2 separate regions of the Homo sapiens genome follow, and region 1 is linked to region 2. Evidence: fine-mapped expression QTL. A gene starts in region 2. The other region holds a variant in brackets. All regions are shown on one strand. Distances are between the middles of the regions.

What was found. PIP is the estimated chance that this variant, and not a neighbour inherited with it, causes the effect. A credible set is the group of variants that fine-mapping cannot tell apart.
Region 1: its variant is the best candidate, but not a certain one, in a credible set for the expression of COL22A1 in gastroesophageal junction (GTEx, PIP 0.59).

Annotation. Positions count from the first base shown.
Region 1 is chr8:138,887,326-138,891,720 of GRCh38, forward strand. All of the region lies in intron 1 of COL22A1 (collagen type XXII alpha 1 chain), which reads right to left. Among named protein-coding and RNA genes, the nearest start is that of COL22A1, 25 kb to the right of the region's middle. The variant T/C (reference allele first, on the strand shown) is at 2,252.
Region 2 is chr8:138,911,433-138,915,827 of GRCh38, forward strand. COL22A1 (collagen type XXII alpha 1 chain) reads right to left here and starts at 2,609. Exons shown (of 65, transcript NM_152888.3): 1 at 2,187-2,609. RefSeq lists an enhancer at 1,710-2,555.

The DNA of each region.
Region 1 (4,395 bases), 24 kb before region 2:
GCAATTCTCTGCCTCAGCCTCCCAAGTAGCTGGGATTACAGGTGTCTGCCACCACACCTAATTTTTGTATTTTTAGTAGAGATGGGGCTTCACCATGTTGGCCAGGCTGGTCTTGAAGTCCTGACCTCGTGATCCACCCGCCTCGGCCTCCCAAAGGGCTGGGATTACAGGCGTGAGCCACCACACCCGGCCAGTCTCTCTTAACATTATATCTTGAGCAATGTCTGGCCTATTAAAAATTCCTTAAAAATGTCACCATTATTGGCTACCTAGAACTATACCTGTGGCACTGGCGTCATTGTTTTAATTGCAATTTCTACTTTGGGACATTTAGTAGGTCATTTTATTTATTTAATATGCTACAGAGGACATCTTTGCACCTAAGTCTTACCCATGTGTAATTATTTTCTGAGGGTAGATTTGTAGAAAAACACTTAGGGGGTCATAAGAGTTTTGCAAGAATCCTGACTCGTATTGCCAAATTGCTTTCTGAAAATATTGTACCAATGTCCACTGCCTCCAGCAGTGTGGGAGTGTGCGGGTGCTCCTGTCACCACCTACTTGTTAGCATTGAGTATTATCACTCCTTCAATCTTTGGTTAACTCAACAGAAGAGGCATTGTTGCTTGTTTCCCATGCATTTCTTTGTTCCATGAGGCTTATTAGCTAAGTGTATTTTCCCTTCTGTATATTTTATTTTCATGTGGCTGTACATTTCTAAACGTATTTTTCATTGTTAAAGCCAAGGTCCTGGACAGGGAAAACAATACACATTTCACTATTGATTTCTTCATTTAGGAAATATTCACGAGTTGCCCTCCTGTGCCAGGTGCTGAGGATAGGTAGATAAATGACACTGAGCCTACCCTGCACAGGTTCTCAATGACCCTGTGACACAGGTAAGACACACACCAGGGGGAGGGAGGATCAAGTGAGTGCTGGTAGAAGGAAGCCCAGGGGGTTGTAGGGGAAGGCACAGAGGTGGGGATGTCCATCACCTGACTATTTCAGGGGAAGGTCAGGCTTCCCAGCTTCCTTCCAAGGTGAGTTTGGAAGGCTGAGCAGGACTCAGCCAGACAAAAAATAGGTGATAATTTCAGGCAGAAGGAATGGCATCTGCCAGGCCCCAGAGTGGGCCAGAGTGTGGTACTTAGGGAACTTCCCTATGCATGACAGGCATGCAGGTTGCTCTCAGGAGAGGTATAATCTGGTTCCTACCACCTTCAGGGCAAAGTGCACTCAGGTCTTACCAGGGCTCTAAAGGCCACTTGTGAGAGCACAGGGTATAATAGTCTGAATGACAATACTCAGAGAGCAGCAGGAGGCAGCTACAGGAACAGGAAGAAAAGCACTGTCCAAAAATGGAACACATAAGGGCAGTCAGGGTTCCAAGGTCAGGAGTCAGATGGTCCAGGGGAGAGGCACAGAATCTTAGCAAGTCAGAGCTGATCGCCCAGCCCTCTCATGCTTCACAGCTGTATGGAGACAAGGACTTGTCGGACTTGTCCATTCTGTTGCCTAGCACCTAGAACAGCTCCTAGCATGTAGTGGTCACCTAAATAAGCATTAGATTGATGAATGAATGATGAACGGCCAGCATCTGATGCTGTTATAGTATCATATTACATTGGGGTAGCCAGGAGTCATTCATCAGAAGAATATAGGCATCATCAAGGAACTATGAAAGTAACTGATTATCACTTATTATCTACCATATGCCAAGCAGTATCTGATTATTGCATGAGCTCATGTGACTCTTCAAGGCAGGCATCATCATTTCCACTGGGTAAAGGAGGACACTGAGGTGGAGAGAAGGTATGTGTCTCTCCCCACGTCACTCAGTTGGTGAAAGAAGGGACTGGGGCTGAAACCTAGGCCTCTTCTGGGCACTAAACCCACACTCTTTCCCTGAACTCAATGGATACAACAAATCCAAATATTAGCTGCAACTGGCACTATTCACAATACCAAAGACTTGGAACCAACCCAAATGTCCAACAATGATAGACTGGATTAAGAAAATGTGGCACGTATACACCACGGAATAATATGCAGCCATAAAAAATGATGAGTTCACGTCCTTTGTAGGGACATGGATGAAATTGGAAATCATCATTCTCAGTAAACTATCGCAAGGACAAAAAACCAAACACCGCATGTTCTCACTCATAGATGGGAATTGAACAATGAGAACACATGGACACAGGAAGGGGAACATCACACTCTGAGGACTGTTGTGGGGTGGGGGGAG[T/C]GGGGAGGGATAGCATTAGGAGATATACCTAATGCTAAATGACGAGTTAGTGGGTGCAGCACACCAGCATGGCACGTATACATATGTAACTAACCTGCACATTGTGCACATGTATCCTAAAAGTTAAAGCAAATATTAGCTGCAACTACTGAGCCGCCTTTGTCTTGTGAAATAAGAAAGATGGTGGCCAGTGAGGGCGGGAAATAAAATGGATCATCCATCGTTGTTCAGTATTTTCCCAGGCTCTAGAAATTTGATAATTTCCCTCATTGCAGAAACCCGGCTTTATCAATGTTGTAATCTCCAAGTTTTTAGAGAAATCTTTGTCATATATCTTTCTAAATACTCAAGAAAAGACAGAACTAAAGACCAATATCCTTTATAAACATAGATGCAAAAATATTTACAAAAAGAAATGCAAATCAAATTCGGGCAGCATAGTAAAAGTAACAGACACCATGACCAAGTGAGGTTTATCTCAGGAATGCAGGAGTGGTTCAACATACAAAAATCAATCAATGTAACATACCACATAAGCAGAATGAAGGGAAGAAGAAAATACATAGTGAATCCAACTGATGCAGAAAAAGCATTTGACAAAACCCAGCACCCTTTCATGATAAAAAAAATAAAATAAGACTATAAAAAAACTTCCTCAGGATAATAAAGGCCATCTATGAAAAATTCACAGCTAACGTCATCCTCAATGGTGAAAGACTGAAAGTTTTTCCAAGAACAAAACAAGGATGCTTCTTTGCCGTATCTACTCAACATGCTACTGGAAGTTCTAGCCACAGCAACTAGGCAAGAAAAAGAAATAAAAGGCATTCAACTTGAAAAGGAAGAGGTAAAATTATCTCTATTTGCAGATGGCCTTATCTTTTTTTTTAGGGATGGGGATTCACTCTGTTTCACATGCTAGAGTTCAGTGGCACAATGATAGCCTACTGCAGCCTTGAACTCCTGGCTTAAGCAATCCTTCTGCCTCAGCCTCCCAAGTAGCTGTGACTACAGGCACATATCACCATGTCCAGCTACGGATGGCATGATCGTATATGTGGAAAAACCCAAATAATACCCCCAAAACTGGTAGAACCAATAAACAAATTCAACGAAGTATAAGATACAAAACCAGCACTCAAAAGTTTGTTGTGGGCTGGGCACAGTGGCTCATGCCTGTAATCCTAACACTTTGGGAGGCCAAGGCAGGCAGATTGCCTGAGCTCAGGAGTTCGAGACCAGCATGGGCAACATGGTGAAACCTCGTCTCTACAAAAATACAAAGAAAAAAAAAAAACTAGCCGGGCATGGCAGCATGAGCCTGTAGTCCCAGCTACTCAGGAGGCTGAGGCAGGATGATTGCTTGAACCCAGGAGGTGGAGGTTGCAGTGAGCTGAGATCGTTCCACCATATTCCAGCCTGGCGACAGAGTGAGACTCCGTATAAAAAAAAAAAGTTTGTTGTGTTCCTGTACACCAGCAATGAACAATGCAAAAAGAAAACTAGGAAAATGATTTCATTCATTTATGGTAGCATCAAAAAGGATAAAATGTTAGGAATAAATGTAATCAACAATGACACATACACTGAAAACTACGAAACACTAGTGACAAAAGTTAAAGACCTAAATAAGAAGAAAGATATCTCATCTGATTGCTTAATGGTTGACAGATTTTCTGTCTCAGGTGATGAAAATGTTCTAGAAATAGAGTAATCACAGCAGACTTGCAAATTAGTACTAATCACCCCCTTTACCAGTGATGAACCTGGGTTCAGGGAGGATAGACAACTTCCCTAAGCACACACCCTAGTAATGACAGCTGGTCTTGGCATCAGATCTGAAGGGCGCCAAAGCCCCTGCTCTTCCCAGCACTAAACCATTAACATACATTAAACCATTTACGTACATTACATGCTCATAAGTGCAGTAGCCACTTTAAGGGCTTTATAAATAATAATTCATTTAGTCTGAACAGTAGGCATAATTAGCTCCATTGTACAGAGTAAGAAACTGAAGAACTTGGGCTTAAGTAATCCTCCCATGACTCCCATATCTAGGAGTCATGGGAAGGATTCAATCCCAAACAATCTAACCATAGGTCCATACTCAGTCACTCAGCAACATTGCTTCTCCCAGGATGTTT
Region 2 (4,395 bases):
TTACAATGAAATCAGAGAGAGATAACCCTGATCTTCTAACTCAGAGCAAGCAAGCTCCCAGGTCTTCAGAGGCCCTGCAGGTCACACAGATGACAGCGGATGACCAGAGGGCACATGCCTTGTCTAAAGGGGATGGCTAATCCTCACCCCAGCCATGGACAGCCTTGCAGGGATTCCAGCCAAAAGAGAAACCAGAGACTAAGATTTGTAACATGAAATCTCCTGATCATTTTATGTTGGCAATAACTGAAACTACACACAAAGCCTTAAAACTGTCTGTGGACTGCATCCGTTTAGGGGCCATTTACTTAATCATTTTGTAGGTATAAAACCTTTCGTGAATCTGATGAAAGTTTGACCAAACCACAGAAAAACCAGACACAAACTTCTGCTCCAAATGTTTTAAAGGATGCATGGATCCCTGGGAGCCACTCTTGGACCCCAGGAAAGAAAATCCTCATTGGATGCAGCATCTTGTCTAATAAGACAGGCCCAACAATATCAAAGTGACCATTTCCCACAGTTGCGCAGTGCCTCAGTAGCACAGCGACAAGGAAATCTAGAATGAGGTGGGGGTGCTTCCTGCTGAAGCTCCCCAGGTGTGTGAAACAGAAGCAAACTAAGATATATTGCATGCTCACCACGTACCAGATGCCTCTTGTGTTATCTATCTCTATCTCTTCCATCAGCTCCATCAGCAAAAGAGAAAATTGAGGCTCACTGAGGATAGCTGCTTGACCCAGGGCAGCCAAAGAGAGCAACAGAGTTAGCACTGGAAGACAAGACTAGCAGCAAAGCTCACATCCTTCAACTGCAACTTGCATGCAGCTGGGCAGCGTACCCCATGCAGCAGGCCTCTAACAAAAATGAAGCCCTGCAATTTCAAATTTTCCTGGAACCTTTGAACTTAACCAGGAGCCTGAAGATGTGGCCTTCAGCTTTCCATGATTTGCCTGGTAGAAATCATCAATGAGAGACAGATTAGGAGTGAGAAAGACCCACGTAGACATAGGAGTGTCGGCATGGGCCCAGGCGTGGTGGCTCATGCCTGTAACCCCAGCACTCTGGGAGGCCAAGGTGGGCGGATCACCTGAGGTCGGGAGTTGGAGACCAGTCTGACCAACATGGAGAAACCGCATCTCTACTAAAAATATAAAATTAGCCGGGCATGGTAGCTCATGCCTGTAATCCTAGCTACTCAGGAGGCTGAGTCAGGAGGAGAATCGCTTGAACCCGGGAGGCAGAGGTCACAGTGAGCCGAGGCTGCACCTCGCACCATTGTACTCCAGCCTGGGAAACAAGAGTGAAACTCGGCCTCAAAAAAAAAAAAAGTGTCAGGATGGGGCTCTGGAAGATGACAAGTCATGGAATGAAGTTCTGAGGAGGGGGACCCGGCACACAGCTCTGGAACAGGCCGGCAGGCGGTGCCTCCTTCTGCAGATGGTTGATAAGCATGTCCACCTGTCATCCCTGAGTCTTGCCTTGAGTGGGGAGAAGTGAGGACTCATTTTCCAATAACACAGCTAATTCAAATCGTGCTCAATAAAGTGGCACACGAAACTCTGGTCTGCTACAGAACATGATACGCAGGGATTGGGGGAAGGACAAAAACACCTCTCTGACCTAGAGAAGGCTGGGAGAGGGGGGATAAAATGCTCAAATAGAAATGAGATCTAAATTTAGATCAAGAAAGCTAAGTTCCCTGACAGTAAATGTAAAACCAAACGAAGACTATTCTTTCCCCACCCCCTGCTCCATTTCCCCCGCATCTTTTTCTCCTTTTACTGCAAACTTCTTACTTGAAAGTTTAAAGAGCTGGTACATCTCAACTACTTTAAAGTATTATAGCAATCTGAAAACAAGCTCTCGCATTTGACTCTCGGCGGCCATCGCTGAGCTCCTCGCTGCTCAGCTAGAATCAAACAGGTGTGTTCTCACGGATTTGCCGCTATTTTACTCTGAAGTTAAGTCAAGACACAGACACATCTGCTTCCAACTATAGTCACTCCCTAAAGAGCGAAGTGTGCTCAGGCTTCAGAAGGAAACGCGTCTGTATTTGGAGAGAACATCTCCCCAGCCCGCATCCACCCCCCGCCTCTCGTCCCTCACTGTCATCTGGGAAGATGGGCGTCAGCTGAAGTCTGTGACCTTCAGCACTGCAGCAAAGAAGAGAACCCGGGTCTTACCTGGCAGGGAGGCACTCAGGGGTGCCAGCGGAGGTCCAGTCCTGGGCCCAGGCCCACTGGAAGCAGCAGCTGGGAGAAGACACCAGCCCCAGGAATCCTCCTCCTGGGGGTCACCTGTCAGCCACTCGCCCACTCTCCCCCAAATAATCTCACAAACTCAGACTCTAAACAAGACCCGCAGTAAGTGTGGAGGCTTTCCCCAGGCCAGGGGGCCAGAGAGGGAACCAGCTTGAAAACAAGTAACTAAATACATACAGTTAGAAGGAAAGGCTTGAAAGTTACAGAATGAGATAGAAAGTGTGTGAGAAACAGAAGAACAGGGAAAGCGGAGAAGACACTTCCTTGGGGAGAAACGCCGCAGCCTCGGCCAGCCCCGCCACTGCCCAGGAACAAAGCTGTCTGGAGCCTCCCCAGGGGCAAGCTGGCCTCAGCGCTGGGATTCCCCGGCTAAGAGCGCGGGGCTGGGGAGGAGCTGGGGCGGGGGCGGGCCTAGGAGCTCGGGGCGGGAGCGGGCGGGGGCCAAGCCGCGAAGGAGGAGGAAAATCAGGGGGCTGGGAGCGGGGAGGGGCCGGAGGTGCAGGGGCGGACCCCAGAGAAAACGAGAGAGGCCGACGAGGCCCCGGACAGTGGCGAGGGGCTGCGGGGAAAGGTGGGCAGGGACCTCGGGAGGGCTGTGGGGGACTGGACAGCGTTAGGGTCCAGGCAGTAACGAGGTGGCCCTGGGAAGCCCAAAAGAGGGGCTGACAACTTTCTGTCCAATTATAGACTTCACTGATACTCTGCTCCCTTTTCCAGCGGGTCTGAAATAGACCACCGACTAGTGCCGCAGCTGCCCGAAACTTTGGGAAGTTTGGCGCCACCAGGGGGCCTGGGGAGGGGGCGCGCTTGGCTCTTTTTCCAGATCTGAGAGGCCCCCTCCTGTCTGAGCAGGTGAGAGCAGGTAACGCGCACCCCTCTGTGCCAGGGGCTCCACCTACAGGCAGCCCTGTTCACTGGCTGTGACTTCAGCTCTGAGGACAGGGGCATCGCGTCCTTCTTTTTGGGATGAGGACAGTGAAGCCTCGGAGAGAGCCTTTATAGTCTGCCAGCGCCCCCAGCAGAGCAGGGATATGGGCCCACGTTGGCCTGATGAGGACACTCGCCTGGCTAATGGGCTTTCCAGCCCCCAAAGGCAGACCATGAACAGGTGCAGGCCCGGGGCACCCTTCTACTTTTTCTTTCTGAGCACTGTTCCTAAAAATGGGCCAGGCAGGAGTATTTTGAACTAGATGAGAACATGGTTTAATCTGTGTGACCTCCCCCACCCCCAGCTCCCAATCTGTCTCCTAAACTCTGGGGTGTCTTTATTTGGTTGCCTGCTGGGTAGCAACGATTTCATAAACAGGCAGTATCGGGCTCCTCTGTGACCCAGGGAGCTCAAAAATCCAGCTGCTTCCTCCCTCTCCGGTCTTGTTTTCCAGCCACTCTTGTGGAAATTCATTTCACATGTGTTGACTGAACCCCACCACCCTCACCATGTCAGGTGCCCATCAAGTAGAAGAGAGGGCTGGCCGTATCACGAGAAAGGTGAGGGGCTGAGATGGGTGCTTGTCAGTTACCAGGAGGGCGGGACGCAGAGAAGAGAATGATTGCACCTGCGAGAGCCCAGCGCGTGCGCCTCTGGGCACACTAGTGTCAGAGGCATTGAACCAGAGCAACTCCATCTTGAATAGGGGCTGGATAAAATGAGGCTGAGACCTACTGGGCTGCATTTCCAGCAGGTTTGGCGTTCTTGTCACAGAATGACATAGGAGGTAGGTACAAGACACAGGCCACAGAGGCCCCACTGATAAAACAGGTTGCAATAAAGAGGCTGGCCAAAACCCACCAAAACCAAGATGGTGACCTCTGGTCATTCTCACTGCTGATTATATGCTGATTATAATGCATTACCATGCTAATAGACACTCCCACCAGTGCAATGACAGGTTACAAATGTCATGACAACGTCCAGACGCTACCCTATGTGGTCTAAAAGTTTCCCTCAGTTCTGGGAAATCCCCTCCCCTTTCCCAGAAAACTCACTAATAATCCACCCCTTGTTTAGCATGTAATCAAGAAAGAACTATAAGTATATCTGGTCGAGCAGCCCGTGCCACTGCCCTGCCTGCAATAGCCATCCTTTTGTTTCTTTACTTCCCTAATAAATTTGCTTTCACTTTATGAACTT